Homo sapiens: one gene and its partners. The protein of the gene in region 1 interacts with the protein of each later gene in a pairwise test. Each region holds a gene or a part of one and is shown in the gene's direction. Other genes may lie near its edges.

Evidence for each region.
Region 2: the proteins of SREK1IP1 (region 1) and FGF10 interact in binary tests that used the Homo sapiens proteins (3 or more experiments, as listed by UniProt).
Region 3: the proteins of SREK1IP1 (region 1) and HSD17B14 interact in binary tests that used the Homo sapiens proteins (3 or more experiments, as listed by UniProt).
Region 4: the proteins of SREK1IP1 (region 1) and LYAR interact in binary tests that used the Homo sapiens proteins (3 or more experiments, as listed by UniProt).

What each region holds. Positions count from the first base shown.
Region 1 is NC_000005.10:64,723,053-64,731,080, reverse strand, and holds part of SREK1IP1 (protein SREK1IP1), read left to right. Parts: intron 1-2,901; coding exon 2,902-2,974; intron 2,975-6,507; coding exon 6,508-6,697; 3' UTR 6,698-8,028. UniProt on the Homo sapiens protein: Possible splicing regulator involved in the control of cellular survival.
Region 2 is NC_000005.10:44,386,421-44,393,990, reverse strand, and holds the start of FGF10 (fibroblast growth factor 10 precursor), read left to right. Parts: upstream 1-4,570; 5' UTR 4,571-5,308; coding exon 5,309-5,633; intron 5,634-7,570. UniProt on the Homo sapiens protein: Plays an important role in the regulation of embryonic development, cell proliferation and cell differentiation. Required for normal branching morphogenesis. May play a role in wound healing.
Region 3 is NC_000019.10:48,825,890-48,833,917, reverse strand, and holds part of HSD17B14 (L-fucose dehydrogenase), read left to right. Parts: intron 1-1,185; coding exon 1,186-1,252; intron 1,253-2,158; coding exon 2,159-2,250; intron 2,251-8,028. UniProt on the Homo sapiens protein: Catalyzes the NAD(+)-dependent oxidation of L-fucose, yielding L-fucono-1,5-lactone, which rapidly converts spontaneously to L-fucone-1,4-lactone. Can also act on D-arabinose and L-galactose, with lower catalytic efficiency. Does not use NADPH.
Region 4 is NC_000004.12:4,272,612-4,280,639, reverse strand, and holds part of LYAR (cell growth-regulating nucleolar protein), read left to right. Parts: intron 1-890; coding exon 891-998; intron 999-1,109; coding exon 1,110-1,193; intron 1,194-5,870; coding exon 5,871-6,273; intron 6,274-6,970; coding exon 6,971-7,057; intron 7,058-8,028. UniProt on the Homo sapiens protein: Plays a role in the maintenance of the appropriate processing of 47S/45S pre-rRNA to 32S/30S pre-rRNAs and their subsequent processing to produce 18S and 28S rRNAs. Also acts at the level of transcription regulation.

The sequences.
Region 1 (8,028 bases):
ATGGCATACACTGTACGCTTTTTACTCCAAGTTCTTATCTTTCCAGTTTATTTAATGTAAAGACCCTCAGGCTATTGACCCACCACTTTCATTCAGTTAGTCTTCCCCTTATCTAGCTTAGATTCCATCATAGTTATCACCATTATTCTTTTGCAAATATCTGTAACTGCCTTACTCCTTTCTTTATCTTTTACCCTTATCTAGCAAAACCCCAAATATGGATGAACCTCTTTGCCTTCTCTATGCTGATCCCCTTACAGCAGTGCAAAGGTGAAGAGGCAGACTGGTGTTTCTATAAATTCATGATCCCTAATCTCAGCTTGCATTTATTTTTGCAAGTTCACTCCACATACTTATTTTATACCTTTCCCACTTCTCCCTTCCTCCTTCGGCTAATGACTCCCTCTTTCATTGACAAAATAGAAGACACCAAATGAGAGCATCTTAGCTTCCAATTACTGAATCCACAAATTTGCATATATATATATCCATCTTTCTTTTCTTTCCTTCAGTTAAAATGGAAGGACTGTCCTTCCTTTCGAAGGCATGTCCTACCATAATTGCTATGAATTCTTTTCTTCAAGAATTTTATTCCTTCAGTTATCCCCTCTCTGCGTCATCATTTCAATCAGCATCAATTTTTTTTCGTTTTTCCCATTGTTCTTCCCTAGATCCTTTGCATCCCTGTAGCTAACATTCCATTTCTCTGCTGCTTTCTAGCTAAACTTCTCATCAAAGTTATTTATTCTTACTTTCTCTACCTTTTTATTTCCATTTGTTTTTCAGTCCACTTGTCAAGGTCTTTAAATACTTTTTGCCAAATTTATTTGGCGTTTTTATATCCACATTCTACTTGGCCTTTAGGTACTATTTGATAGGTAGCCCCTCTCTTCAACATTCCTACTTCTTGGTTCTGGTATTCTTCCAACCCCGTGGCCCTTCTTTGTCAGTCTTTTTGACAGCTCTTCTTCTTGCTCTTCTCAGCCCGTAAATGTTGGAGTTCCTCAAGATGCAGATAATCTTCCTGGGCTTTACTCCCTGTATTTTTTTCTCATCATTCTCTTACTAAATGATTTTATTTATTCCCCATAGTTTTAAATACTATCTATAAGCTGATCAGTGTGTGTGTCCAGACTAATCTCTAAACTTCAGAATCACATACCAAACTACCTACTTCAGTTACCTACTTGGATGTCAAACAGGTCTTTTAGATCTCAAATGTCTAAAATTGAAATCTTTACTTCCCACCCACAATTGTCCTTCAGGCTCCTACCCACTTCCCACCAATCCACATTTTAATCAGTGGCACTGCTAAAAACCTGGTGGTCATCCTTGATTCCTTTCGTTCCATCATCCTTCGCACACACATATCACCTCAGGACACCATCTCTGGCCTGCACTACTCCAGTTACTTTATTATTCCCCTGCCTTTTCCCCTTAGCCCTTTCCAATTCATTTACCTTGTAAGTCTGCCGATCACACAGTCCGTCTCACTTAGAATGTAAAATCCTTACTGTTGCCTTCATGGTCTTGAATAAGCAAGTTCCTGCTTACCTCTCTGGCCTCTCATTTCATGGTATTCTACATGTATTTATGATATTGTTCATCTGTTCTCATTCATGTTCATTCTTATTCATAGTTGCCCCTCCCCTTCTATCCGCAACAACCTCTTCTTAGTTTCTAGAACGCACCAAACTCTTTTTGCCTTGGAGCTTTGGCACTAATTTCCTCTTCCTGACATGCACTACCCTTGCTGTTCACTTAGAATGCTATCTTTGCCTGTTAATTTTCTTTCTCACCACTTAACTATAAGTTCCCTGTGGGCAAGGATCATGCACAGCAAAGACCCAGTACATAGCACAGTACTTGACACATAAGCATTTAGTAAATATTTGTTGAATAAATGAAAGCGTGGTCAATAAAAATCTCCTAGGATTTTATGAGACAAACTGATGTCTATTCTTTACCTTGCCAAATAACCCCAAGGCTTCCTCCCGAGTAGCTGGGAGTACAGGCTCCTGCCGCCACGCCTGGCTAATTTTTTGTATTTTTAGTAGAAATGGGGTTTCACCATGTTGTCCAGCCTAGTCTCGAATTTCTGACCTCATGATCCACCCGCCTCGCCTCCCAAAGTGCTGGGATTACAGGCATGAGCCACCGCGCCCAGCCTGCTTTTTCTTTAAATATACACAAGTTCTGTCACCCAGAAATACTTCTTATATGTACAAAGATTTCCATTGCTTATTGTTTCTAACAATGAAAGTAGAAATTGATAAAATATGGTTAATGGGAACACTTCTGTGTTTAATAATGATATATATTTAATGACAAAGATAAATATCTGCTATGTTAAGTGAAAAAAAAGCTGCAAAATATATGTGACAGTACATTTTTCAAAGGCAAAAAATACTTGGAACTTATATGCAACTATGTGTGTATGAGTAAATGTGTGTGTATTTGGTTTTATATAAAGAATGCCTACAAGAATACACACCAAATAGTGTATTTAAAAAACAAGTTAGAGAATAATACATATTGCATGATCCTAATTTTGTTGCAAAATAAAATTTTAAAACTGTGCACTGTTGTAGTGTTCTGCTTTTTAAGGGCCAAACAATACCCATCAAACCACTGGCCTTGATTTCCTATGGGAATTAGAGGTGGGGTACTTGCATTTTTTTACTTGATGGACTTAGTATTTGAAATGTTTATAAAAAACATTTAATACTTTTATGAGTTTTTTAATGGATAAAGATAATTAAGAAAGGGGAAAATTATTACAAAAATTATCCTAACCAGTGAAATTCACCAACAGCTAAAATTTTAACATATATACATGCCATATTAATATATAGAATCATATATTAACCAGATTTTTTTCTTCTCACCTCTCCCCCACAGGAATAAATGAAGAAGAGGAAAAGAAGAAAGAAAAAAGCAAAGAAAAAATCAAATTGAAAAAAAAAAGGAAAAGGTATTTTTTGAACAACATTTTAAAAAACAAAGCAGGCCTATGAGTTTAGGATGGATTATAAAATTTTATTTTTTGTGTATAATAGTTAATTTAATATTTTTTCTTCAACAACTAAGCTTTTCATTGAGCTTAAGTTTAAACTCTTAATATATATTTTGTCTTCATATACATGAAATTGACTAAAATATTTGTATTCTTGTAATATTACCATGGCTAATAAATTAACTTATTAATAGAATTTAATAGAACTTGTCATGCTGTCCAGGTGCGATGGCTCATGCCTATAATCCCAGCACTTTGAGAGGTCAAGGCAGGAGAATGGCTTGAGCCCAGAAGTTTGAGACAGGCTTGGGCAACATAGGGAGACCTCATCTCTGCAAAAAGTAAAAGAAAAATTATCCAAGTGTGGTGGCATGTACCTGTGTTCCCAGCTATGTGGAAGGCTGAGGTGAGAGGATTGCTTGAGCCCAGGAGACATGATCACACCACTGTACTCCAGCCTGGGCAACACAGCAAGACCCTATCTGCCCCCCGCCCACCAAAAAAAAAAAAATATATATATATATATATATATATGTAATTATATGCACATACACACACCTTTGTATTTATATGTATTTAGCCTGACAGTTTCATATATATATATATATATGGTGGCTGATGAGGGTTGTGAAAGACCTGAAGGAATTTTTAGCATCACAACTTCCTTCCAGTCTTCGGCCACCTGTGCATTTTTACTATTAACTCTTTTAAAAACTAACTGGTTAAAGAAGTTATTGAAAGTAGTAAGTGGCCACTTCTCTTGTTAATGCGTGCAGTTTCATTCATACTAGCATAAATTTGCACATACAGGCATTTTTTAAAAGCACTTAACCATAATTATTTCTAGTTTAGACCCAGTTCTCATACAGAATAGGTTGTAGAAACCAGGGGCTGCCACTTTGTAGTTTTTATAGAGCATTTAATACATGTATTTTAATATTTCAGGTATCTTATAAATTGGAAAAGTAGCCCACTTTCAAGCGTTAGGAGTTAACTAATAATCTTTAATATAAAAACAAATAGGAATTTAGAGCTCAGGGTTTTCTGTTAATGTATTATTAAATCATTTATTCTAGCACAGGAAGATGGATTGCTCACAGGAAATGATATCTGATAGTCTTCCAAATTCTAATACAGATAGTTCCCAATTTATGTGGTTTGATATGATCTTTCAACTTTATGATGGTGCAGTAGAAATGTACTTCAAGTACCCATACAACCATTCTATTTTTCACTTTCAGGACAGTATTCAATAAATTACATGAGATATTCAATGCTTTATTATAAAATAGGCTTTGTGTTAGATGATTTTGCCCAACTAGAGGCTAATGTAAGTGTTCTGAGCATATTTAAGGGCAGCCACGTTAAGCTATGATGTTCAGTAGGTTAGCTGTATTTTGTGTATTTTCAGCTTCAGATAGATTTATCAAGGCGTAACTCCATCATAAGTTGAAGTACATCTGTATATTTCTTTTTTTTTTTTTTTTTTGAGACAGAGTCTCGCTCTGTTGCCCAGGCTGGAGTCCAGTGGCACAGTCTCAGCTCACTTCAAGCTCCGCCTCCCGGGTTCACTCCATTCTCCTGCCTCAGCCTCCCCAGTAGCTGGGACTACAGGTGCCCACCACCATGCCCGACTAATTTTTTTGTATTTTTAGTACAGACAGGGTTTCACCGTGTTAGCCAGGATGGTCTCAATCTCCTGACCTTGTGATCCGCCTGCCTCAGCCTCCCAAATATTTTTTATAGTAACAGATTATTTATTTGGGCCTCTTTACCTTGAGCATCACAAACCTGAAATTAAATTAACTTTTCTGTGCACACTTAGCAGAGATAGTGCCCCCTGAAAGTGTTGCTATGCCACAGCCTGAAATTTTGCCTTAAAAAGGAGACTTCAGGCCAGGCACGGTGGCTCACTCCTATAATCCCAGCACTTTGGGAGGCTAAGGTGGGTCGATCACCTGAGGTCTGGAGTTTGAGACCAGCCTGGCCAACACAGTGAAACCCCATCTCTACTAAAAATACAAAAAAAATTAGCTGGTGGATTACAGGTGGGTACCTGTAATCCCAGCTACTTGGGAGGCTGAGGCAGGAGAATTGCTTGAACTCGGGGGAGCGGAGGTTGCAGTGAGCCGAGATCACGCCATTGCACTCCAGCCTGGGCAACAAGAGTGAAACTCTGTCTCAGAAAAAAAAAAAAAAAAAAGAAACAAACAAAAAAAAAAACTTCAGGACCAAAAAGCTAAAGAAAAAAGTGCAGGCAGGGAAGAAGCTTTAGTCAGAATCCAGAGGTCAAGTCAAACAGGGTCTTTAAAAGAGGAAAATAGACAAGATTTGAGAATAACAACTGAAGAGGCAAGGGTGCAGGAGAATACATGAGAAAATAAGCTTTAACAGATGATTGGAAGTCTAAGTAAGTAGACAAACAAGGAGGAAAAAGGAACACAACATTACAAAAATAAGGGAAAACTCGGAGTCACTAAAGGAGGAAGGCAGTCAAGGAATTCACACACTATACAGACACAAAATAGCCTTGGAGCCCTGTAGTCTCCTGAATTTACATTGGCACCTCCTTTATATCCGTCTCAGATTTTCTTAGTTTGAGTTTTAACTCCTAATATTTAGATCACTAAACTAACTCTTTAGATACCTTTGTTTACATTTTAAATTAACTCAGTTTCTGTCTTGTCACTCATATTTTGAGTTTGAGTATAGGTAGAATGTTGCACATCTCTTTAAGTAAGATCTTAAAAGATAGGGTTTTCTGTTTTTTTCTTTTTCTTTTCCTTTTTTTTATGAATATTAGAGGAAGGAATTGAACCAATTTTTTCAATTTAGTATTAGAGTAATATTTTTCAAAAGCACAATGATAACCCATCCTTTTTCATTTATATATAGCATAAAAGCATCCTTTTGTAACTAATGAAAATTATTTTGTAATGCAAGTATTCATCTGTATCACTCTCCGTCTAGAGGGATCAAGTACTTGAAAAATCAGAAGAATTACCAAAAGTGCTTTTATTTTGCTAACTTTCAGCTTTCATTCATTCATATGAACGTACAATTATAGCCCTTTAAAATAGAGAATTGCAACTTTTGAGACACTTTTAAGAAAATATGCGAAGTTATTGTATACACAAGTGAATATAATAAGGCTTGGTGAATGCCCCTTTGTTTGCCTTTTAGGATTTTGAATGATATGACTGCATGAAAAACCAAAAATCACAGAAAAATAATTTCATCCTTATTGACTTTAAAACTCATTACATTAGTATTGAGTGGAATAGATACTAGTTTTGTTGGTTTCTGTGACCAAGCAGCAAAAATTCTAAATTCATCGTTTTAAGGGAATGCAAATATATGAAGCATTTTTTAAGTTTATGTTTATACTCCCTACCTTACTCCAAGAAGAATTTAAGGCAGTTCAAATCCCACTTAAATTTATCTATCAGTCATAAATGCAATTCTCAGTCAGTATGTATTATTATCCATAGGTCTTACTCATCCAGTTCCACTGAAGAGGACACTTCAAAACAAAAGAAACAAAAATATCAGAAGAAAGAAAAGAAAAAAGAAAAAAAGAGTAAATCAAAAAAAGGGAAACATCACAAAAAGGAAAAAAAGAAGAGAAAAAAGGAAAAGCATTCTTCTACACCTAATAGTTCTGAATTCTCCAGAAAGTAACTGAGACTTTGGCTTAAGCCGTTAAATTTAAAAATTTGTTTTTAAAACGTGTTTGCCCTTCCTTGGAATTTGCTATATATTATGCTTTGCAATAAATCACAGCCTTTTCCATATAGACATTTTTCGTATTTGGGACCATTATCCCTCTGGCAATATATTTTTAATGTGCTGTAACTGTAAAGTATTAAATCAGTCTTGTTACTTGATAGCCATGCCCCAAGTATAGCTATTTGTGTATACTAAACACATCATTTTTGGTATTTGTGTCTCTGTGTGTTTGGCTAGTGTTACTACTTCATAAGTTCATTGTAAAATGGCTTTACTGCCATCAACATGGGTCATCTACCTAGCAGTTAATGAGTATTGCTGGATCAGGTGTCCACCTTCCAATGATGAAGCAAGGTAAGGGGTAATGTTTTGCTCTTGACACAGAGAAATTTAATAGCTTTATGTACTAAAATATAATATCTTTTAAAGATAGTGAAATTCTTCAGTTTTTTAAATCTCTAGGGATTTTTTTTCAATGTTGTAGAAGATGCAGCTGCTTAATGGTCTTGACTAGGACTTTTTAAATGAATGGTGTCTGCAGGTAGATGATCATGAAAATATCTCTAACAAAGTTTTACTCTTCTATGAAATGCAGAATTTCTAGTACCTGCCTCCTTTGTTTTTGTAATAATTAAAATACTTCTTGTATAAAGAGATTAGTTCAGCCTGTTAGTAAGTCTGCAGAGATGATGCTGAGTTGGTTGTGATTTTTAGAATAGACTCCTGGGTTGTTTTACAAATGTGCCATATTGGCATGTCTTACAGTGATACCTCAAACACAGAAATTTTTATTTAGGAAGATAGCTAAATCTTTATTAGAACTGATTTTTATTGTATTCAGTATAAATTTTATGAAGCTTGTTTCTATGAGTACTGTGGAAAATTTTATAAATGTGAGCATATATATTTATTTTGTCTGACATAATTTGTAGTTTTAAAGCAAGTTTCACACTGAACTTAACGTTTTCATAAATGACCAGTTTGGGATGTTTCTCTCTTTTACTTTAGTGGCAAACTCAAGAGTAAAAAGTGTCAAAAAAAGAATTGAGAATTTTATTCTGTACTTTTTAAAATTTAAGAGCCAGGGAGTTGCATCATGAAAGCCTTTGTATAATAATGGAAATTTTATATGGGTAAGCATTTTCAAACACATATTAGTAGATACGTTTTTTAAATTTCTATTTTCACATTGATCAGTGTTACTTTGCTTAATACTTAGGTAGCCCTTATGTCCACTAAAGTAAATGCTTATGTTGTAGAAGCATCGAACATCAACCAATGTC
Region 2 (7,570 bases), about 20 Mb from region 1:
AAAACAAACAAAACTTTTCAGAGACTTCACAACTTTGTCAAGGGAAGGTTCTGTTTACCATCAGCTGGGAGGGGACAAACAGCAGCTTTGTGAAAATATGTTTGTTGTGTTTAGTGCCAAGATGCAAAGTTCAGTTTCCAGGAATTTGTGGTGATTTATTGTATGTTTTAAACAATCTTATATAGAATTCTTTTCTTGTTACAAAAGATCCTTTTTATCATCTTGGCCATATTTCCTTCCTAATAACAGATCATTGAGTCTGTTTGAAAGTGAGGGAACAGAAAATTAACCTTAGTTTCAAACTTTGAAAAAAACTTGTTTAAGCAACCTATGCTTTGAAATATCACAATACTTTATGGAAAATTAATATTAGAACGCAGAAACCCGGATCAAATTATAAATCTACTTTTCTAGAAAGTCTCATCAGTTTTCTAGAGGTGAACTTATAAATTCAGATTCTATTAAAAAATTGGGGTATTCTGAAAATATGGGGTATTCATTACTTTTTGATTGTGCTCATCTCGGAAGCATTGATAAAATATCCCCCTTTGCCAAGTATATATCAATATTTATTTTAGCTAACCCAGCTGGTACTTAATAATTCAACACTATTTTATTACTTTTCTCTGGTTAATCTATTGCAGCAAAGATATAATTGCTTTTCCATAACTAAACCCCTAACTCTTTTTATCATTTCTACTCTGCCATCTTAGACATATTAGAATGATGAATGGTCAATGGTAAGAAAGGGAGTAGGGAGGAAGAAAAAGAATATAAACAGGACAGGTGTTGCAAAAATTAGGGTAATAGCCTAAGGTCTATCACAGGAGTTCCAAATTCTGGTCTACCATGGAGTGACCTGGGAATCAGCTTATTCATCTATAAAATACATGTGTTGGATTCAGTTATAGCTAAGATTCCCACTGGCTCTGAAGCAATGCACACCACTATCTGTGGGATAACACCTCTTTTCTGTTCACTTGAAGCTCCTGGTTTAAAAACAATAAGATATCACTCCTTCATTCACCCAAATGTGAGTGATTATTAGCATCATTTCTAGCTGCAGCCTGGGAAGTGCACAAGTCCTAATGATGACTTAAAACTGGCATGTTCTGTGTCCAAAAGGGAAAAATGGGCTGTGACACATACTCATAAGGTCTGCACCACAGGGTGAAAAAATGAGGCCTGCATATGTCTAAATTTTTGAACAGCGTGGCTGACTTTTGACCTTACTTAGCATTACTTGAAGCAGCTTACTGACGCTGCCAATAACATCATACATAATAGGGCACACATCTTGTAACTGAACCATAGGTAGTGCTGAGCAACATAAAGAATCCAGGCAATACATATGTAAAATGTAAACTGCTCAAACACAATAGCTACTGAAGGATCTGCTAGTACATACACTGATTGCTTCTCTGAGGTTCAAGAGCCAGGTTTTAGGATTCTTCAATGGCTGCTGCCATGGTCTTGTTTTAAAAAGCCTCAATCATTTCTCAAGACATCACACGTAACAAAAGGCTGCATCTATTTCTCTCAATACAGAGCTAGCCTGATAGTAGCAGATATGTTTAAGGGCATAGAAATAAAGTATGCCTTCCAGAAGTTGGATAAAAGAGAAAAACAGCCTTTGAGAATTAGTAGGTACCACTCTAATCTGAAGCTTGTACTGTCCTTTTCAATCCTAGCAAAGAAACAATTAATAAAGGAACCCATTAAGACCTGATTATTGCAGCTAAAAAAGGAAGGTAGAATTTCAGTCCTTTGAAGTAACTGAGAATGATTCAGGCCTCATTACAGAGATATAATCTACATTCATACATTTATGTTAGTGATTCAAATCTATTGGGAGAGATTGAATTCCGTTAAATAGTGCATCTTTCCTGTGGAACTTTTCTCAGGCTTTCTCGGGCTAACCTAAGAGGTGACCTAACAATGCAAAGTAGTCGGGTATTTAGGGATTCAACTGTGCTGTAAAAGAAAGGCTGCACAGAAAAGAAAAAGAAGAATGAGATATAATCTAAAAAGCTATGTCAGCTTTTCCTTTGGGCTGTTTTGTAAATGCCCTCTTGTCATCACGCTGTACAGAAGAGCAGCGAAGGGGCTCTAGAACTTTCAAACACTGCACCTGCTGCAACCAGATTTTAATATGAAAGTTTAAAGACATCTTTTCCCTCATTTTAGACAGAAAAAACAAAGAAACTCCTAGCTAAAAGATCTGAATGGCTTCTTCTACTGGAACATAAAGTTGGTAGATGTGTGTATGAGAGAGAGAGGGAGAAAGAGAGACTAGCTTTGGATTGGAGGGGCACATGTCTAGGGTGAGTTTAACAAAAATTCTTAAACCCCAAAGTGGCATCAATAGTGTTGGTTCCTATTGTACAGAAACCCCAAAATAATAACTTCCTGTGTTTTGTAACTTTTCACAGCAGAATCTTTATTGTATGGTTTCATCAAACATAATTTTTAAAAAATGTAGTTTTAATTAGTTGTAAAATCAAACATTTGGATTCTTCTGGACCATTGGGCTGAAACCCAAATCCATGGGAAACACTACACTGTCTTTCAGGCATTTGTCCTCTCAGGTATAAAACTGTGAACTAAAACATTGAAATTCGCACTGTTGGTTCATTTTTCAGTATCCTAAAGAAAAAGACTCGCTTGATGTGTGCTCTTTATTTGCTTAACTTTCCAATTAATATCTACAGAAATTAGAGCTAATTATATTAAACTTTAAAAACCTATTGTAATGTTCACCACATTGTTGAACTCTTCTAAATAAGCACTGCATGAGTTATAACTAATGCAATTAAAATCCTGATTCTAGTATTAAATGATTCTATTTCAAAGGATTTGAATACACAGAAAAATATAAGAACATTCATGTAAACTCATTTTTCAAGTCACTAAATACTTAATTGAGCAATCATTCCTAATGCTCATCTCTAACGCTAATTCTTTTTTCTTTGCATTTCCTCTGGTTCACAACCAATATGGAGGTCAAACGCACATCATAGGGATCCTAGCTTGTGTGAACACAGACTCTTCTAATTAGTTCCCTCCAAATTACAGTTGCTGTTGTTAAACTCCCAGTTCACCTTGAAGTGTTTCTCTGTCTTACATTGGCAGCCTAATTTTAGGTTGAAACATATGAAATTACCACTTTTGTAGGTACAAAACCTTAAAATGTTGGCAATTTTGTGGGCTTCAACAAAACACAAATGTCTAACTGTCCTATGTGACATAGATAGTTCATTCCAGTACATGTTTAGGCATTCCTTCTAGTTAAACGTTCCCTAGTTTAGAGTCATTCTTAAAGAAGTGGTCCTCTAGGAGCTGTTTCTTATTCAGATTGGAATGGATTATCACAGTATTTCCTTTTTTGTGCCTCTTAACTCTTGGCAAAGGTTTCTTAGCCTTGGACTTAGTTCTGTCAATACCTGGGCTGTGAGCTAGTTTCTGCGAGCAAGGGAGGAGTTGGGGTGGCCTGAAAGAGTGTGAAAAGGAGAGGAGGACTAGTAGTGCAGTGATATTGTAAAACAGAGCCCTTTAAACATTAAATGTGAAGATAGAAAAAAAAAAAACCTCCCCTTTATGACAAAGTGCAAAGGAAATTGCATAAAAAAGAAAACAGACAGCAGGCTATTCAGCCAAATTATATGGTAAAATCTTTGCGATCGCCATAAAGTGCGTTTGCTTTGAAGTGCACGCATGATTCAGTGAAGGGCTCATGTTAGCAATTAGAAATCGGTTATTTGGGTCCCTGATTTCATTTGCGCCGAGAGAGGCAACTTTTAAGGGTGACGATAAATCTCCCTGAGCTTAAAAGGCAGAGAGGGCCAAAGTGTGAACTTTTTACTTCAGCAACGGAAGCGAGAAATCAGTGATTCATTAAAGAGGAGACCTCCTTGGAAGCTGGCAGCAGAGGAGGAAAGGACACTAATTATGTCTTCCTTTTCTGTGCTCGTTCTGACCAGTTTATAACCTGCTGCTTTGGACGGTTTAAAATCCTCAGCATCTTCTGCTTTCTCCCAGCCCTCTCCTCTTCTGGGAGTGAGAAGGGAGGAAAAGTCAGCCAAGCACCAGGCTCCAGGTGGCTCTCAAGTACTTCACTGCCAAAAGAAATGGGGGTGGGGGGAGGAGATCCTACGCTGGAAAGCAAGTGAGAAAGGGGCTCCCCAGAAGGGATTGGTTCAGGCTGGAAGACAGCAAAATTCGGAAAGCGGGAAGATACCGTCAGCGCCGTGGCCCGCGCTGCAAGCATAGGACGCTTTAGCAGCGAATTAGACAGAGCTAGAGGCGCCGGCGGAGGCTGCGGCCGCAACAGCCGCGGCGAGGAAGGGACCTGGCAGCCCCCGAGCTCGGTGCAAAGGCATCGCGCTCTCTCCTCGCTCCCCTGCTCCCCCACCCCCTTCTCTGCCCCTTTCACCCTCCCTCTCCCTGGCGTTCCCAGCAGCCTAGGGTTTCAGATGTCCCACCGCCGGTTGACCCCCTCCCCCCTCTTCTCCACCCCTGCAAATGAGGTTTGACCAGCAGAGGCAGAGCCCACCTCTGGCTTAGAATCACTGACATTTAGACTCCAGGCTTCAACCTGTTTACAAGCGGACTTTCCAAAGGAAGGGGGTGGGAGATAGGGCCATACAAAACACCAGCCGCCGTCCCCCAAAACAAAAAGTGACTTTCGGCAGCCTTCAAATCGGCAGGCACCACTAAAAACAGAAAGGAAGAGAGGGAAGAAAACAACGGCGACTGGGCAGCTGCCTCCACTTCTGACAACTCCAAAGGGATATACTTGTAGAAGTGGCTCGCAGGCTGGGGCTCCGCAGAGAGAGACCAGAAGGTGCCAACCGCAGAGGGGTGCAGATATCTCCCCCTATTCCCCACCCCACCTCCCTTGGGTTTTGTTCACCGTGCTGTCATCTGTTTTTCAGACCTTTTTGGCATCTAACATGGTGAAGAAAGGAGTAAAGAAGAGAACAAAGTAACTCCTGGGGGAGCGAAGAGCGCTGGTGACCAACACCACCAACGCCACCACCAGCTCCTGCTGCTGCGGCCACCCACGTCCACCATTTACCGGGAGGCTCCAGAGGCGTAGGCAGCGGATCCGAGAAAGGAGCGAGGGGAGTCAGCCGGCTTTTCCGAGGAGTTATGGATGTTGGTGCATTCACTTCTGGCCAGATCCGCGCCCAGAGGGAGCTAACCAGCAGCCACCACCTCGAGCTCTCTCCTTGCCTTGCATCGGGTCTTACCCTTCCAGTATGTTCCTTCTGATGAGACAATTTCCAGTGCCGAGAGTTTCAGTACAATGTGGAAATGGATACTGACACATTGTGCCTCAGCCTTTCCCCACCTGCCCGGCTGCTGCTGCTGCTGCTTTTTGTTGCTGTTCTTGGTGTCTTCCGTCCCTGTCACCTGCCAAGCCCTTGGTCAGGACATGGTGTCACCAGAGGCCACCAACTCTTCTTCCTCCTCCTTCTCCTCTCCTTCCAGCGCGGGAAGGCATGTGCGGAGCTACAATCACCTTCAAGGAGATGTCCGCTGGAGAAAGCTATTCTCTTTCACCAAGTACTTTCTCAAGATTGAGAAGAACGGGAAGGTCAGCGGGACCAAGAAGGAGAACTGCCCGTACAGTAAGTAACAAATGCATGCTCCCCTCCTTCCAATTATCCACCCCCAGCCCACACGGGGGGGAAAAATCTGTTCCAGATGTGGCCAGCTAAATATTTACGTCCCCAACCCCTGTAAAATGATTAAGTGGAATACTTTCACACTAATTCACCCCCCAACCCCCGTGTATACATTGTGCTGCCGCATCCCCTCCCCTAAGCGCGCTCCCTTCACATCCCCCACCCCTTGCCGCTCTACCCACCCCTTCCCTCCAGCCTGTCACTAGCCGGACCACGCAGGGCGCTCAAGAGAGTTGTTGCAGTGCAAAGATGCCCCTTTCTCTCTCCACCGCCTTTCCCACCTCATCCAAAGAGCAATTTTTCCTTCCTTCTGGAAATGGCTCAAGTAAACACATTTTGTTTCTTTTCCCTGGCAATCTTGTTAAGAGTTTTGGGACAGGCTCCTCAAGCTGAAAATAATTATCCGCTGTCAATTATAGGGGCTTTGTGGGAACTTTATTTAAGAAAGAAAAGTCAATTCCACTCTCTCCCCACCCCCATCCCTTTACCCCACTACCTCTAGATATGAGCGAAAAGCATTTTTCTGGTTTTGATTTTTGTTTTGTTTTGTTTTGTTTTGGGTCCCTTATGTTAGTTTGAGTGATTGCAGTCCATGAAGTTAGCTTTTCAGGCACCACCGCTGCTATTTGTCTTCTGCCTGCCTTCCCTCTTGGTAACATGATGCTCATGTCTGCATTGTCAATAGCGTATGCACTGCTTTGTGGTGTCCTGTTGTACTGTTTCTTCTGAAACCTCTCATATTGCAGAGCCATACTACTACAGCATTGTAAACATCTGGGACTGGATTCACACAGACCTCACACAAATTTCATTGTCATTCTTTTATTTTCAAAGTAAAAGTCATAAGTCTGTTTCCATGGCTATATTTTATCCCACAGTGTGACATTTTCTCCTCAGCGTAAATTATGCCTGGGATCCCTACATTTTGGTCTTGCCTTTTCCCTCTCTCTTTCCTTCTTTCTCTCTTTCCCTTCTTTCTTTCTTGCAGGGGTGTGGGCTGGTTGGGGGAAGAGAACTAGAAGAAGAGGGGTGGATATTGTGTCTCTTCTTGAATCAACCCAGCAAACCCAGATTACTCTGTTGACTTCCTTTCTCAGATACTTTCAAGTGGTGAGACTTATTCATCCACTATTGATTGTTATGTGAAAGGAACCCAAGGCTCTGTAATGGCACACTGAAGACAGTAGACAATGATGTTTAAACATCTTTAGTGACCATTTGGCATTATCTCAATGGTAAATTCCAAGTCACCTTTAAAGGGGACATTTTTGTGTTAGTTGTTCAGGAATTCTAAGCATAGATTGTCTTGTCAGTTAACTTAAATACGTCAGTCAAACATTTCAAGATTCCTTGGTTTAGAAAGTACCAGGTACTAATGGGAATGACAGTTGACCAGAATTTAGCATTTTATTTTTGAATACAAATTTACAAGAATTAAGAATTTAGTTTTCTTCTGTGGGGATGCACACACATTCAACATTAACTTCTGTTTCTCCTCAGCCACTGGTTCTATTTACTAAAATTCACAATATGTTTATAAGTAATAAAAATACGTGTAGAGGTGCTTTTAAAGTGTTTCATTTTATGTTTCATACTAAAGATATTAAGTACCACATTATCTGATTCAAAGAAAGTAGCTGAAATAATGTCATAATGATGACAATTATTTTTGCTTAAAAATCATTTGTTACCCGAATTCATTAGATCCTATGTATATAACCTTTAAGGTTTTTCGATTAAAAATTTAAAAACTTTATTTACTTCTAAAATAAAATAGTTGTGGTGTCATTCAGTTAGCAGGATGGGGAAGAAGCTATCCAAACATTGGGCTGGACAGAGTGAGCTGGGAATTAACAACAACAACAAAAAATTCTGATGGA
Region 3 (8,028 bases), on another chromosome or scaffold:
ACCGAGTTCAAGCCATTCTCCTATCTCAGCCTCCCGAGTAGCTGGGATTACAGGTGTGCGCCACCATGCCCGGCTAATTTTTTTTTTTTTTAAGACAGAGTTTCGCTCCTGTTGCCCAGGCTGGAGTGCAATGGTGTGATCTCGGCTCACCGCAACCTCTGCCTCCCAGCTTCAAGTGATTCTCCTCTCTCAGCCTCCCGAGTAGCTGAGATTTCAGGCATGTGCCACCACACCTGGCTAATTTTGTATTTTTAGTAGAGACGGTGTTTCTCCATGTTGGTCAGGCTGGTCTCGAACTCCCAACCTCAGATGATCCGCCCGCCTCAGCCTCCCAAAGTGCTGGGATTACAAGCATGAGCCACCGTGTCTGGCTAATTTTTGTAGTTTTAGTAGAGACAGGGTTTCACCATGTTGGCCAGGCTGGTCTCGAACTCCTGACCTCAGGTGATCCGCCCACCTCAGCCTCCCAAAGTGTTGGGATTACAGGTGTGAGCCACTGCACGTGGCCTGTATGTAACTGATTTTTTCTCCATTATTTCTGGGTTCCTATTTCTTCCTTTTAATCAGTATCTCTCTGTTATCTGCCCCCCTTGGGCAACTGTCCCCTACGCGCTCTCTGAATCCTTGTCACCCCCCTGCCCCACCCCCTGACCCTGGGTGTGACGACTGCAGTGTGGCTCTGACCAGCCCCCTGTCTCCTTCCTGTCTCCTGCTTGCCTGCTGTGTCTGCTGATCTCGGAGTCCCCTCTTCCTCTAGCTCTTGTCCCCTGACCTGGGAGTTCAGCTTCCCCCTCCTGCCTTGCATTTGGGAGCCCTGTCTTCTTTATGGCTGGACACCCCATCTACTGCTCATTCAAAGGACATTTCCTGGGCTGGGCGTGGTACCTGTAATTCCAGCACTTTGGGAGGCTGAGGCGGGTGGATCACTTGAGCTCAGGAGTTTGAGACCAGCCTGGCTAACCTAGTGAATCCCTGTCTCTACTAAAAAGTACAAAAATTAGCCGGGCGTGGTGGCAGTCGCCTGTAATCCCAGCTACTTGGGAGGCTGAGGTAGGAGAGTTGCTTGAACGCAGGAGGCTGAAGTTGCAGTGAGCCAAGATCGTGCCAATGCACTCCAGCCTGAGTGACAAGAGGGAGACACCGTCTCCAAAAAAAAAAAACAAAGGACATTTCCTTTCTCCTCAGACCCTGGTTTCTGAGACCATCCGCCGATTTGGCCGCCTGGATTGTGTTGTCAACAACGCTGGCCACCGTGAGTTGTGAGACCCCAGGGCCATTCTCCACCTCCTGCCCCCCAACTCTGTTTCCTGCACGTCAGTTTCCCCACTCCCTGCCCCTGATTCCCTCATCCTGCCTCATACCTCTTTCTAGCCACTTGGACAGGAGAGTAAAGCAATGGAAGCCCCCCAGGCCTGTGCTGAAACTGTGGCCCTGTTCCATCCCTCCTGTGTGTCCCCAGGGCTGTGCCCTCACTTGGCCATGTCTCTCTTCTTTTCTTTTCTTTTTTCTTCTCTTCTCTTCTTTCTTTTCTTTTTTTTTCAGATGGAGTCGCACTCTGTCGTCCAGGCTGGAGTGCAGTGGTGTGATCTCAGCTCACTGCAACCTCTGCCTCTTGGGTTCAAGCGATTCTCCTGCCTCAGCCTCCCAAGTAGCTGGGATTACAGGCGCCCACCAGCACGCCAGGCTAATTTTTATATTTTTAGTAGAGATGGGGTTCATCATGTTAGCCAGGCTGGTCTTGAACTCCTGACCTCAGATGATCTGCCCACCTCGGCCTCCCCAAATGCTGGGATTACAGGCATGAGCCACTGCACCCGGCTTTTTTTTTTTTTTTTTTTCTGAGATGGGGTCTCACTCTGTCGCCCAGGCTGGAGTGCAGTGGCTCGATCTAGGCTCACTGCAACCTGCACCTCCCAGGTTCAAGCAATTCTCCTGCCTCAGCCTCCTGAGTAGCTGGGAATATAGGCACCCGCCACCACACCCAGCTAATTTTTGTATTTTTCGTAGAGACAGGGTTTTGCCCTGTCAGCCAGGTTGGTCTTGAACTCCTGACCTCATGATCCGCCTGCCTCAGCCTCCCAAAGTGCTGGGATTACAGGCGTGGGCAACTGTGTCCAGCCCCCGTCACTTTTCCTCTCTCTCTCACCCCCCACTTTAGACCCACCCCCACAGAGGCCTGAGGAGACCTCTGCCCAGGGATTCCGCCAGCTGCTGGAGCTGAACCTACTGGGGACGTACACCTTGACCAAGGTGAGGGCTGGCGACCCTGCCGCCAGGCCCGAGCAGCCTCCTGATAGGTGGATTGTGTGATGCATTTTGTCTAAGAGCAAAATGTTTTCCGTTCTTTTTATTTGTTTGTTTGTTGGAGACAGGGTCTCTCTCTGTCGCCCAGGCTGGAGGACAGTGGTGTGATCTCAGCTCACTGCAACCTCCACCTCCTGGGTTCAAGCGATTCTCGTGCCTCAGCCTCCTGAGTAACTGGGATTACAGGTGCGGGCCACAAAACCAGCTAAATTTCATAATTTTTGGTAGCTATGCTTCTGACTGCAAGTGATCTGCCTGCCTTGGCCTTCCAAAGTGCTGGGATTACAGACTTGAGTCACCACGCCTGGCCATCTATTTTCTGTTATTTAGTTTAATCTCCTTATTCCAAAAGGAAGATAAATGACTGCGAATCTCTACATCCAGCAAATCTACCTTTGTAGCTACATAGCCCAGTCTTAGGAACCTTCTAGAACCTTCCAGACTGGTGGTGGTAGGAGGGGATGTTAAGAACATATTGGGGCCAGACACAGTGGCTCACACCTTTAATCCCAGTGCTTTGGGAGGTCCTTGTGGGAGGTTCACTTGAGGTCAGGAGTTCAAGACAGCTGGGGCAATACAGCGAAACCCCCCATCTCTACAAAAAGTTTAAAAAATTAGGCGTAGTGGTGCCCTTGTAGTCCCAGCTACTCAGGTGGCTGAGGTGGGAGGATCGTTTGAGCCCAGGAAGTCAAGGCTGCCATGAGCTATGTACACACCACTGCATACAGCCTGGGCAACATTGCAAGATGCTGTCTCAAAAATAAATAAATAAATAAATAAATAAATAAATAGGCCAGGTCCAGTAGCTCACAGCTGTAATCCCAGCACTTTGGGAGGCCGAGGCAAGAGGATCCCTTAAGCCCAGGAATTCGAGACTAGCCTGGGCAACATAGTGAAACCCTCGTCTCTACAAAAAATACGGAAATTACCTGAGCATGGTGGTGCGCCTCAGGTACTTGGGAGGCTGAGGCGGGAGGATTGCTTTGTTGTAACCGAGCGAGTTATAGAGAAACGCCACACTCTGAGACAAGATCAGGAGTCCTTTATTAGCCGGCAGCCCAGAGACGGCTAGCGCTCAAAATTCTCTCGGCCCCGAAGAAGGGGCTAGATTTTCTTTTATACTTTGGTTTAGAAAGGGGAGGGGGGAGTCTAGTTAAAACAATCTTACAGAAGTAAAGCAGGCAAAAAAAGTTAGAAAGATAAATGGTTACAGGAAAGCAGACAGTTCCAGGTGCAGGGGCTTTAAACACATCCCAAGGTGATAGACGCTGGACGTTGGGCGCTATCAACCAGACAGAAACGCGGGGGCTTAGGGTACTATTAATCGGGCGACTGCCTGGGAACTGCGGATATAACTTGCCACAGTATCTTATCAGTAATTGCATTCTTTGATGTGCTGGGAGTCAGCTTGCACAAGTTAAGTCCTTGAAGAAAGGGGGGTTGGGTTAAGGGGCTGCAAGTGAAGGAGCCAGGATGGAGTCTGTCTGGCTCGCTCACCTAAGGGAGAGTCAATTCAGGTTAAAACAAGGTTAGGGTATCACAGCTTGAGCCCAGGAGGCGGAGGTTGCAGTGAGCTGAGATCGTGCAACTGCACTCCAGCCTAGGTGACAGAGTGAGACCTTGTCTCAAAAAAAAAATAATTCATTAATTAATTTTTAAAAAGAGCATGGAGTCCAGGCATGGTGGCTTACGCCTGTAATCCCAGCACTTTGGGAGGCCGAGGCAGGCGGATCACCTGAGGTCGGGAGTTTGAGACCAGCCTGACCAACATGGAGAAACCCCATCTCTATTAAAAATACAAAATTAGCCGGGTGTGGTGGCACATGCCTATAATCCCAGCTACTCAGGAGGCTGAGGCAGGAGAATCACTTGAACCTGGGAGGCAGAGGTTGCAGTGAGCTGAGATCGTGCCATTGCACTCCAGCCTGGGCAATAAGAGCGGAAACTCCGTCTCACAAAAAAAAAAAAAAAAAAAAAAGCCAGGCCTGGTAGCTCATGCCTGTAATCCTGGCACTTTGGGAGGCCAAGGCGGACAGATCACTTGAGGTCAGGAGTCCAACATGGTGAAACCCCATCTCTACTAAAAATACAAAAATTAGCTGTGCGTGGTGGCAGGTGCCTGTAATCCCAGCTACTCAAGAGGCTGAGGCGGTAGAATTGCTTGAACCTGGGAGGTGGAGGTTGCAGTGAGCTGAGATTGTGCCACTACACTCCAGCCTGGGTGACAGAGTGAAACTCTTTCTCAGAAAAAAAAAAAAAATTAGCTGAGTATGGTGGTGCTCCTGTAATCCCAGCTACACGGGAGGCTGAGGTGAGAGGATCACTTCAACCTGGGAGCTGGAGGCTGCAGTGAGCCGTGATTGTGCCACTGCACTCCAGCCTGGGCAACAGAGCGAGTCCTTGTCTTAAACAAGAATTGGGGGAGAGCTGGGGAGGGAATGAGAAAGAAAACAAACTTTTTTATCTGAGAAAGGAGAGCCCCTTTAGATGATCAGGATCAGGCCCAGAGGGGCTTTTTAACAACTTTTTTAAAAATTAATTAATTTATTTTTTGAGACAGAGTCTTACTCTGTCACCCAGGCTGGAGTACAGTGGCACAATCTCGGCTCACTGCAACCTCTGCCTCCCAGGTTTAAGCAATTCTCTGCCTCAGCCTCCCTAGTGGCTGGGATTATAGGCACTCACCACCACGCCTGGCTAATTTTTTTGTATTTTTAGTAGAGACGAGGTTTCACCATGTTGGCCAGGCTGGTCTTGAACTCCTGACCCCGTGATCCACCCACCTCAGCCTCCCAAAGTGCTGGGATTACAGGCATGAGCCACTGTGCCTGGCCTTTTTATTTTTTAATAGAGGTGGGGTTTCACTATGTTGTCCAGGCTGGTCTCAAACTCTTGGGCTCAAGTGATTCTCCTGCCTCAGCCTTTCAAACTCCTGGGATTACAGGTGTGAGCCACCGCACCTGGCTCAGAGGGACTTTATAAAAATGTATTTTAATTACTTTTTGAGACAGGGACTCACTCTGTTGCCCAGGCTGGAGTACCATCATAGCTCACAGCAGCCTCGAACCCCTGGGCTCAAGTGATCCTCTTGTATCAGCCTCCTGAGCAGCTGGGACCACAGGGGTGCACCACTATGACTGACTAATTTTTAACTTTTTTGTAGAGACAGGGTCTTTCTATGCTGCTCAGGCTGGTCTCGAACTCCTTGCCTCAAGCTGGGATTACAGGCATGAGCTACTGCACCCATCCAATAATTACCTTTTGAGGCTACTTGGTTTCTGGACTCTAGACGACCTGATACCAAGTAGCTCTAGAGTGTCACACACTCTATAGTTCAAACATGTATAGCCAATCACTAATCAATGTGATGTCTGTAAACCAATGACAATTCCTGATGAACAACTTTTGTAATCACCGCCTCTCTTGATTCGTCCTTTTTTCTTTAAAAAGTTGAGCCTTTGGCCGGGCGCGGCACCTCATGCCTGTAATCCCAGCACTTTGGGAGGCCGAGGCCGGCGGATCACGAGGTCAGGAGATCGAGACCATCTTGGCTAACGCGGTGAAACCCCGTCTCTACTAAAAATACAAAAAATTAGCTGGGCGCGGTGGCGGGCTCCTGTAGTCCCAGCTACTTGGGAGGCTGAGGCAGGAGAATGGCGTGAACCCGGGAGGCGGAGGTTGCAGTGAGCCGAGATTGCATCACTGCACTCCAGCCTGGGCAATAGAGCGAGACTCCGTCTCAAAAAAAAAAAAAGAAAAAAAAAAGGAAGGAGAAGGGTTGGTCACGGTGGCTCACACCTGTAATCCCAGCACTTTGGGATGCCAAGGCGGGTGGATCACTCATCAGGAGTTCAAGACCAGCCTGTCCAATATGGTGAGACCCCGTCTCTACTAAAAATACACAAAAAATTAGCTGGGCATGGTGGTGAGCACCTGTAATCCCAATTCCTCGTGAGGCTGAGGCAGGAGAATTGCTGGAACCTGGGAGATGGAGGTTGCAGTGAGCTGAGATTGCACCACTGCACTCCAGCCTGGGCAACAGAGCAAGACTCTATCTAAAAAAAAACGAAGGAGAAGAACACACATCAAAGCCTTTCCCTCACCCTTGCTTATGCAACAGCTGCACACAAACATCCACTCTCCATAACATCTTTATTCTCCGCATAGCACTTTTTAATTAATTAACTCAACAAATAGTTATATAGCACCAGCAACATGCGGAGCCCTGCGCATACAGCTATGAACACACAACAGAAGAAAATCCCTGTCCTTGCCAGGCACGGTGGCTCATGTCTTTGTAATCCCAGCACTTTGGGAGGCTAAGGCGGGCAGATCATGAGGTCAGGAGTTCGAGACCAGCCTGGCCAACATGGTGAAACTCCGTCTCTACTAAAAATACAAAAATTAGCCAGGCGTGGTGGTGGGCGCCTGTAATCCCAGCTTCTTATGAGGCTGAGGCAGGACAATCTCATGAACCCAGGAGGCAGAGGTTGAGGTGAGCTGAGATCACACCACTGCACTCCAGCCTGGGCGACAGAGCGAGACTCCATCTCAAAAAAAAAAAAAAAGTGGGGTTTTAGGTTTGTTCTCCCCACCTCCAGCAACTGAGCAACTGACCGGACAGAGCTGCCATTCACTGTGGCAGGAAAGCCTGGCGGGGGCGCTGTTGAACATGAACTGCCTGGTGGACGTCCTGGTGGGAATGGGCATTGGGCATGAGATCGTGGAGGTGGGGCTCTGGAGATACCAGCTTGCAGCTGACCAGTTTGAGGCTGGAGGAACTCAGGGGAGCAAGAGTAGGCAAAGAGGGGAGAGGCCTGGGGGCGGGCCCAGTGTCCAGGGAGCTTCAGGTGCTGACTCTGAGGTCGCATCCAAGATCCAGGTGAAATGTTCCCGGGAGGTTGGGCAATCCCCTGCTTAACCAGTGAACCCTGGCTCCTGTTCCAAATTTGTGTTGACTTTCTAGGATTAACCCAACACTAAAAACACCTCCACACATAAAACACACCTACACCTCAGCCCATGAAGAGTTAATATATGTGTGTGTGTGTGTGTGTGTGTGTGTGTGTGTATATATATATATATTTTCTTCTTTTCTTTTACTTTTTTTTTTTTTTTTTTTGAGACAATCTTGCTCCATCACCCAGGCTGGAGTGCAGTGGCAGGATCTCGGCTCACCACAACCTTGACTACCTGGGCTCAATAAATTCTCCTGCCTCAGCCTCCCGAGGACCTGAGACTACAGGTGCCCACCACTACGCCCAGCTGATTTTTGTATTTTTTGTAGAGTTGGGGGTCTCACTATGTTGTTCAGGCAGGTCTCAAACTCCTGAGCTATAGCGGTCTGCCTGCCTCGGCCACCCAAAGTGCTCGGATTACAGGCGTAAGCCACCATGTCCGGCCTATCTTTTTTCATTCATTGCCAACATTTCACAAGGCAGATTTCACATAAACCACCACATTTCTTGTTTCTCTTAGAAAGTTGGTCAAGTTGGGCTGGGCACGGTGGCTCACGCCTGTAATCCCAGCACTTTGGGAGGCTGAGGCGGGCGGATCCCGAGGTCAGGAGATCGAGACCATCCTGGCTAACACGGTGAAACCCCATCTCTACTAAAAATACAAAAAAATAGCTGTGCGCGGTGGCGGGTGCCTGTAGTCCCAGCTACTCGGGAGGCTGAGGTGGGAGAATGGCGTGAACCCAGGAGGCGGAGCTTGCAGTGAGCC
Region 4 (8,028 bases), on another chromosome or scaffold:
CCTAAGGTTGAGGTGCATGGGTCTGTGAGTTCCGTCTCTGCTGCTGTCACACTCGATGAAATCCTCTGAAGCAGGGGTCAGCAAACTACAGAAACTTATTACAGCTTTGTAATAAGTTTTGAAATCAGAAAATATGAGATCTGCATTTTTGTTGTTCTTTTCAAGATTGTTTTGGCTATTTGGTATCTTTTGAGATTCCCTGTGAGTTTTAGGATGGATTTTTCTGTTTCTGTAAAAACGTATATATACACACACATTGGATTTTGATAGGAATTGTATTGAATCTGTAGATTGCTTGGGTAGTATTAACATCTTAACAACTTTAAGTCTCCCAGTCCATGAGTACGGAATGTTTTTCATTTATTTGTGTCTACTTTAATTTCTTTCAGCAGTGTTTTTTGGTTTTCAGTAAACAAGTCTTTTGCCTCTTCAGTTAAGTTTATTCCTGATTATTCTTTTTGATGCTGTTGCAAATGGAATTGTTTTCTTAATTTCTCTTTCTGGTTGTTATATAAAATGCAACTTGATTTTTGAATGTGGATTTTGTATCCTGCAACTTTGCTGGATTTGTTTATTCTAACAATTTTTGTGTGGACTCTTTAGGACTTTTGACATATAAGACCACATCATCTGTGAACAGAGATAATTTTACTTCATCCTTTGCAGTTAGGATGCCTTTTATTTTGTTTTCTTGCCTAACTGCTCTGGCTAGGACTCCAGTACTATGTTAATAGAAGTTAACCTATATATTTTTAAGCATAGACATAAATACAGAATCTGGGCTTAAAACGTGAACGCTTTAGCCATGGCAAGGACTTTTTCAATTGGCTTTCATGAAACTCATGTTGGTTGTTTATTAATAGTTTTTCTTTTTTCTTCCCTTTTTGTAGAAAATTAGTGAATTAATAAAGAGACCCAATGTCAGCCCCAAAGTGAGAGAACTTTTAGAGCAAATTAGTGCTTTTGACAACGTTCCCAGGAAAAAGGCAAAATTTCAGGTATGAATTGACTTTCTTGAATGGAGGGGGCCGTGTGGCCCATCAGTGACTGAGCTTGTGTGTACCTGTCCAAGTGGGATCAATAGTTCTTTTTCTTTTTCTTTCTTACAGAATTGGATGAAGAACAGTTTAAAAGTTCATAATGAATCCATTCTGGACCAGGTGTGGAATATCTTTTCTGAAGCTTCCAACAGCGTAAGTCAGATCTGATTTTAGATTTGCATTGTGGCAAAAATAATTAGTAATAATGAAATGGGAATTTCTTATTTTTGGAAGTCAAGGCAGCCTTCTTTTTTATTTTTATTTTTTTGAGATGGAGTCTTACTCTGTTGCCCAGGCTGCAGTGCAGTGGTGCGATCGTGGCTCACTGCAACTTCTGCCTCTGGGTTCAAGCAATTCTCGTGTCTCAGCCTCCCAAGTAGCTGGGACTGTAGGCACGAGCCATCATGCCCAGCTAATTTTTTGTATTTTTTTTTTTTAGCAGAGACAGAGTTTCACCATGTTAAGCAGGCTGGTCTCGAATTCCTGACCTCAGGTGACCTGCCTGCGTTGGCCTCCCAAAGTGCTGGAATTACAGGCATGAGCCTCCGCACCTGGCCCAGCCTTCTTTTTTAGAGAACCTCTTAGTGCCTTCATTTATGGAAAGGAAGAAACTGAATGCACTGCAGAGACTTCCTTATTGTGAAGAGCAAGATGTTTCATCCCAATGTTTGATGCTGGTGCCAGCCCAGTATGTAATGATTTGCTTAGTAATCAGGCAGGGAGATAGATACATGGGAAAGAAAGAACAGGAGCTTTGGATTTCTGACAGACCTGGTTCAAATCCCTGCTGTGCAGTTTGCCTGACGTTTGATCTTAGGCACATTATTTAGCCTCTGAGCCTCAGTTTCCTTATCTAAAAAAAATGTGGATAGTAATATTCATTCATTTATTTAATACTTAACTGAGTGTCTGATCTGTGCCAGGACCTGAACAAAAAAATCTAAAGTATCCCAGGTGGTGGTGCATGAGGGAAAATAAAACAGGGTGAGGACGTAGTGACTAGGTGTTCCTCTGGATAAGGGGTGAGGGGGTCACAGCAGCCTCTGAAGGTTACGGTTAAGGTAGATGAGCAGTGTGCTTGAAGCGCCTTCCTTCTGGTAGAAGGAGAATTCCCTTCAAGTAATTAAATCAGCCACCTGTTAGTCAAAATGGTTGAATAGAGACCCTAAATGTGGACTATATATGTAGAAAATCTTGGTTTGCTATCTTTCAGCCACATTGTTGATTACATTGTTTATTTTTGTGTAAATATCAGTTTCAAAAAACAGTGGGGTCAGAACCCCACTGGTCTTTCATTCTTATCAAATTATCGGGAGTTGATTCACTTATGTAGAGAGAATACTTTCGGCAACAAGTGGGCATCAAGATGAAAATTTATCTCGGTAGTACACCTAGCGTTTGTCTCTTTCAGAAGGTACAAATTGGCCCTTTGAAACCGTATAACCGATCATTAGATTGGCCTTTATGTGGCATCTATTTTTTAAGGTTATTTCTGTTTTAACTAAGAATCAAAGATTTGAAATTGCTTCAACTGCAGGGTTTTAGAAAGTTTTTTCCAGTTTCCCTTTTGAAGTGTGAACATATTAAACATTAAATAAAATAAGGAGTAAACAGCCCCTGGTAAACCCTGAGCTCTGCGAAACGCAGCTTGTCATCCCTTACCTCTGCCTTTGCACCACGGCCCTCCCAGCATACCCTGTGTTTGTAGTGCAGAGCAGAGGGTCCTGAGGCCTTGTCCTCCGTACCTTGGTTGTTTATCCTCCTGTAACTCTGCCAGATGTCAGGTCGGATGCTTTTCTGTCCTCTACCCCATCACAGTTCACCTGATCACTGTGGATGCAACTGTAATTAGGCCAAGGTCCTGGCTGGTTGGAGCTGTGTTCTAGTGGGGGAGATAGGCACCACGTGCGGGTCCATGGTGTAATGTCAGGTCCTGATCAGCACTGGGAAGAAGCCAGAGGCATTGGGAGGCCAGGACTGAAGGAGGTGCTCGATTAGGAAAGAGTCAGGGCATCACAGAGGAGACCACATTTGAGGAGAGTGTGTAATGAGGTAAAAAGAAGATGGGGAAGAATTGGTTCACCTATTTATTGAGCAGCTACCAGATGGGTAAATGTGTGCCTCCCTCCCTCTCTCCCTGTGGCCGAGGAGTTGGTTTAGACAAAGAGGCAAGGCACCAGCTGAAAATCTGGTCTGGATTGTGTAGAAGGGATGCCAGGGTCTCAGGCTCTCAGTGGTTAAAATAATATTTTATGGCGGGCACAGTGGCTCATGCCTATAATCCCAGCACTTTGGGAGGCTGAGGCAGGCAGATCAGTTGAGGTCAGGAGTTTGAGACCAGCCTGACCAACATGGTGAAACCCTGTCTTTACTAAAAATACAAAAATTAGCTGGGTGTGGTGGCAGGCGCCTAGAATCCCAGCTACTCGGGAGGTTGAGGCACAAGAATCATTTGAACCTGGGAGGCGGAGGTTGCAGTGAGCTGATATTGTGCCACTGCACTCCAGCCTGGGTGATAGAGCGAGACTCAGTCTCAAAAAATCATAATGATAATAATATTTTACTAGAAGATATCGACAGAATTGTAGGACAGATGTGAAGTTTCTTTGTCCCCTTCTTCCTAAGTCTATTTCTGAAATCCTCCTCTGCCCTTTACCCCATGAGCCTTGACAACCTGATGCTGCTAAGCCACTGCTACTGAGAAAACCAGGTGGTTACATCAGTATCCATTTTCTTTTCTTTTGAGACGGAGTCTCACTCTGTCACCCAGGCTGGAGTACAGTGGCACGATCTTGGCTCACAGCAACCTCTGCCTCCTGGGTTCAAGTGATTCTCCTGTCCCAGCCCCCCGAGTAGCTAGGATTACAGGCGCTTGCCACCACGCCTGGCTAATTGTTGTATTTTTAGTAGAGACAGGGTTTCACCATGTTGGCCAGGCTGGTCTCAAACTCCTGACCTCAGGTGATCTCCCTACCTCGGCCTCCCAAAGTGCTGGGATTACAAGCATGAGCCACCGCACCCGGCCTACAGTATCCGTTTTCTTTTTTTTTTTTTTTGAGACAGAGTTTCATTCTTGTCACCCAGGCTGGAGTGCAGTGGCGTGATCTTGGCTCACTGCAACCTCCACCTTCCGGGTTCAAGTGATTCTCCTGCCTCAGCCTCCCCAGTATCCATTTTCTAATGCTGCTCTTGTAGCCAAGGATCGAGCCTTAAGGTCTGAGTCCTGAGTCCTTGCACTCTAGTGAAAGCTTGTCCTTTTTTATTTGGTCCAGTTTTGAGGACATAGTCCTTGCTACCCACAATCTCCCAAAGGAGGAAGACTGTAGGTAACTTACCCTGTCCTTTGGCTAGACTAACAGAGACGGAATTTGAACCCCCGCCTGCAGGTGCATCAGCTCAGTGGTTTCTCACACCTGGAAGCAGCCACTGGCCACTCTCTTTCCCTCCAGAGGCATCAGGGAACATGGAACAGTTCAATGAATTGCTCCAGGTCATCTCTTGAGAAAGGGGCTCAGGGAGGGAGTTCAGGAAGGAATGGGACTGAACTTGCTGATGTCACTGTTTAAAGTAGGCTCTATGTGCTGATTTTAATAAGGTAATGCAAGGCCTGGCGCTGTGGCACACACCTGTAATCCCACCACTTTGGGAGGCCAGGTCGGGCGGATCACCTGAGGTTGGGAGTTCAAGATCAGCCTGGCCAACATGGTGAAACCCTGTCTCTACTAAAAATACAAAAATTAGCCAGGTGTGGTGGTGCATGCCTGTAATCCCAGCTACTCAGAAGGCTGAGACAGGAGAATCACTTGAATCTGGGAGGTGGAGGTTGCAGTGAGCTGAGATTGCACCACTGCACTCCAGCCTGGGTGACAGTGAGACTCTGTCCCAAAAAAAATACATAAATGAGGTAATGTATTTAACAGGGGTAACCATTAGAGAGACACCTCCATACGTAAAGAATGGTGACCCCGTCTCTACAGAAAATAAACAATTTTCCGGTTTTGATAGCTTGCGCCTGTGGTCCCAGCTACTTGGGAGTCTGAGGCAGGCGTGTTGCCTGAGTCTGGGAGCTGGAGGTTGCAGTGAGCTGAGATTGTGCCACTACATTTCAGCCTGTGCAACAGAACAAAGCAAGACCCCTGTCCCCATTAAAAAAAAAAAAAGAATGATGAGAATGGTGACCATTCTTCTAATGGTAACTTTCCAGTCTGAATAATGATGATAATAACAGTACCATTTTCTAAGGCTGATAATTTACAAAACTCTTCACACACAATGGGCTGGTTTATTGGGCATGTGTTATGCTAATAAGCACATGACGGATCTTTCCTCGTTTCATCCGTCCGTGTGTGAGGTAGGTATTACTACCTTTCATTTTACAGATGAGGAAATAGGTTTGGAAAAGATAAATGACTTGCCCTTAGTCACCTGACTAGGAATTAATAGAACTGGAGCTTGAACCCAGGTCTGCAGACACATAACATCCAGTGGTTTCTACCACCCCTAAGTACTCTTCTCTTATCTAAAAGGTGAATAGTGAGCTGGAATGAAAGGTCTTATCTTCAGCGACATAAGGATTCTTCACTTTTCCAGTGGAATGAAAATGTCTGTTCTGTGCAGACAGAGGGGTGTGGACTGGGGGAAGTGGTTTCCCATTTTGTATATTTACTGCTACATTTTAGCTGTTGGTGGGGGTCACAGTTATAAAACGATAAGGGATTAAACCAACCGTTTTTCTTGAACAGTTTATGTAGTAGGCCCAGGCAATAACGTGACAACTCTATTTACACATTTAAAATGAATATGTGTTTCTTGCTTTTGCTTAATGATAAGGAACCAGTCAATAAGGAACAGGATCAACGGCCACTCCACCCAGTGGCAAATCCACATGCAGAAATCTCCACCAAGGTTCCAGCCTCCAAAGTGAAAGACGCCGTGGAACAGCAAGGGGAGGTGAAGAAGAATAAAAGAGAAAGAAAGGAAGAACGGCAGAAGAAAAGGAAAAGAGAAAAGAAAGAACTAAAGTTAGAAAACCACCAGGAAAACTCAAGGAATCAGAAGCCTAAGAAGCGCAAAAAGGGACAGGAGGCTGACCTTGAGGCTGGTGGGGAGGAAGTCCCTGAGGCCAATGGCTCTGCAGGGAAGAGGAGCAAGAAGAAGAAGCAGCGCAAGGACAGCGCCAGTGAGGAAGAGGCACGCGTGGGCGCAGGGAAGAGGAAGCGGAGGCACTCGGAAGGTAAGTGGCTAGCTCACGCTCTGGGATTCATCTGAAAACCGGGAAAGCTGTGAATTTGGGATATTTAAGCCTGTTAGACCTAGCGTTTTGTGTGCGTGTGTGTGTGGTTTTTTTTTTTTTTGTTTTTTTTGAGACGGAGTCTTGCTCTGTTGCCCAGGCTGGAGTGCAGTGGCACGATCTCAGCTCACTGCAACCTCCACCTCCCAGGTTCAAGCGATTCTTCTGTCTCAGCCTCCTGAGTAGCTGAGATTACAGACGTGTGTCACCAGACCCAGCTAATTTTTGTATTTTTAGTAGAGATGGGGTTTCGCCATGTTAGCCTGGCTGGTCTCGGACTCCTGACCTCTGGTGATCCGCCCCCCTCGGCCTCCCAAAGTGCTGGGGTTACAGGCATGAGCTACCGCACCTAGCTAGACCTTATGTTTTGAACCAAGTAAGGGAACGAGCATAAGCTTTGTGGCCAGGCAGAGGTGGGCCCTGCCCAGGCAAATGACCTCACTTCTCAACTCCTTTCATCCCATCTCCAGCATGGAGGAGGATAAAACCCTCCTGGGGTTTTATAAACCGGGGCTGGGCAGCTTGGAGAAGAAATGAGATGATACGTGGAGTTTGCCTAGCTCGCATAAGGTCTCATTAAATGGTAGCTGCTAGCGTAAATGCAAAATCTTCTTTAAAAAAAATCTTTCCAAATACTTAGTTGAAACAGATTCTAAGAAGAAAAAGATGAAGCTCCCAGAGCATCCTGAGGGCGGAGAACCAGAAGACGATGAGGCTCCTGCAAAAGGTATATCACTGCTGTCATTTGAGGAGCACGGCTGGGCACAGCGGCTCTCGCTGATAGTCCCAGCTACTTCAGAGGCAGGGGCAGGAGGGTCACTTGAGCTCAGGAGTGTGAGGCTGTAGTGAGCCATGGGCGTACCACTTTCAAAAAGCGAGAGAGAGAGAAAAGAAAAGAGAGAAATACACGGTCCCTTGTAGGTTGGGAGAGGGGCCGAGAGATGCCCCCTTCTGGGGAAGGAAGGTGTAATGTGGGCACTTCTAGTAGGGTCTTACCCTCCAGAGGTATATATAAGAATTTGAAAGTAAAATCAGTTCTCTAGGGTGTGTGAGTCAGTCTTACAGTGCCTCTCACCCACTGTCTTTAAGGAGAAAAGTAAAGCAGTCTGGTTTGGAAATGTATGTTATCTTTGAAATTTAAATAAGCCCAATATAGCTTTCTGAGACCCGGTTCCCTTTCGCTCCTCCCCAACTCTCTTGCCCCTGCCTTTCACTGTTCTCTTAGAAGTCCCCTGAACTGTGCCCCTGCCCATCTCTGGGCCTGTTTCTGGGGTCTCCTTGCTTGTATCCTCAACCTCAGAATCCAGTCCCTGGCCTTCACGGGCCCTCTGAAATGCTGTCTCTTACACAAAGCTTCTCTCCTGCTTCTTCAGGCCTGAAGCACTCATACCTGTCGGGAGGTGGCAAGTCGTCATCTCTCTGCCACCTCCCCCAACCCCCAGGATCCTGCAGTTCAGAACAGGTCCAAAGACTCAAATGGGCCTGCAGCTTTATTAGCAGAGTTCAGTGACTGCCAGCATTGGGTTAGATCTCTAAGCTTAAAACCCCCTTCTCAACTTAGTAAACAGTAGTGTCCCCATATCTGTGGGATGGAAAATTCCAGAAATAAACAATTGATAAGTTTTCCATTGCATGCTGTTCTGAGCAGCATGGCGAGATCTCTTGCTGTCCTGCTGTATGCCTTCTTCACCACAAGAA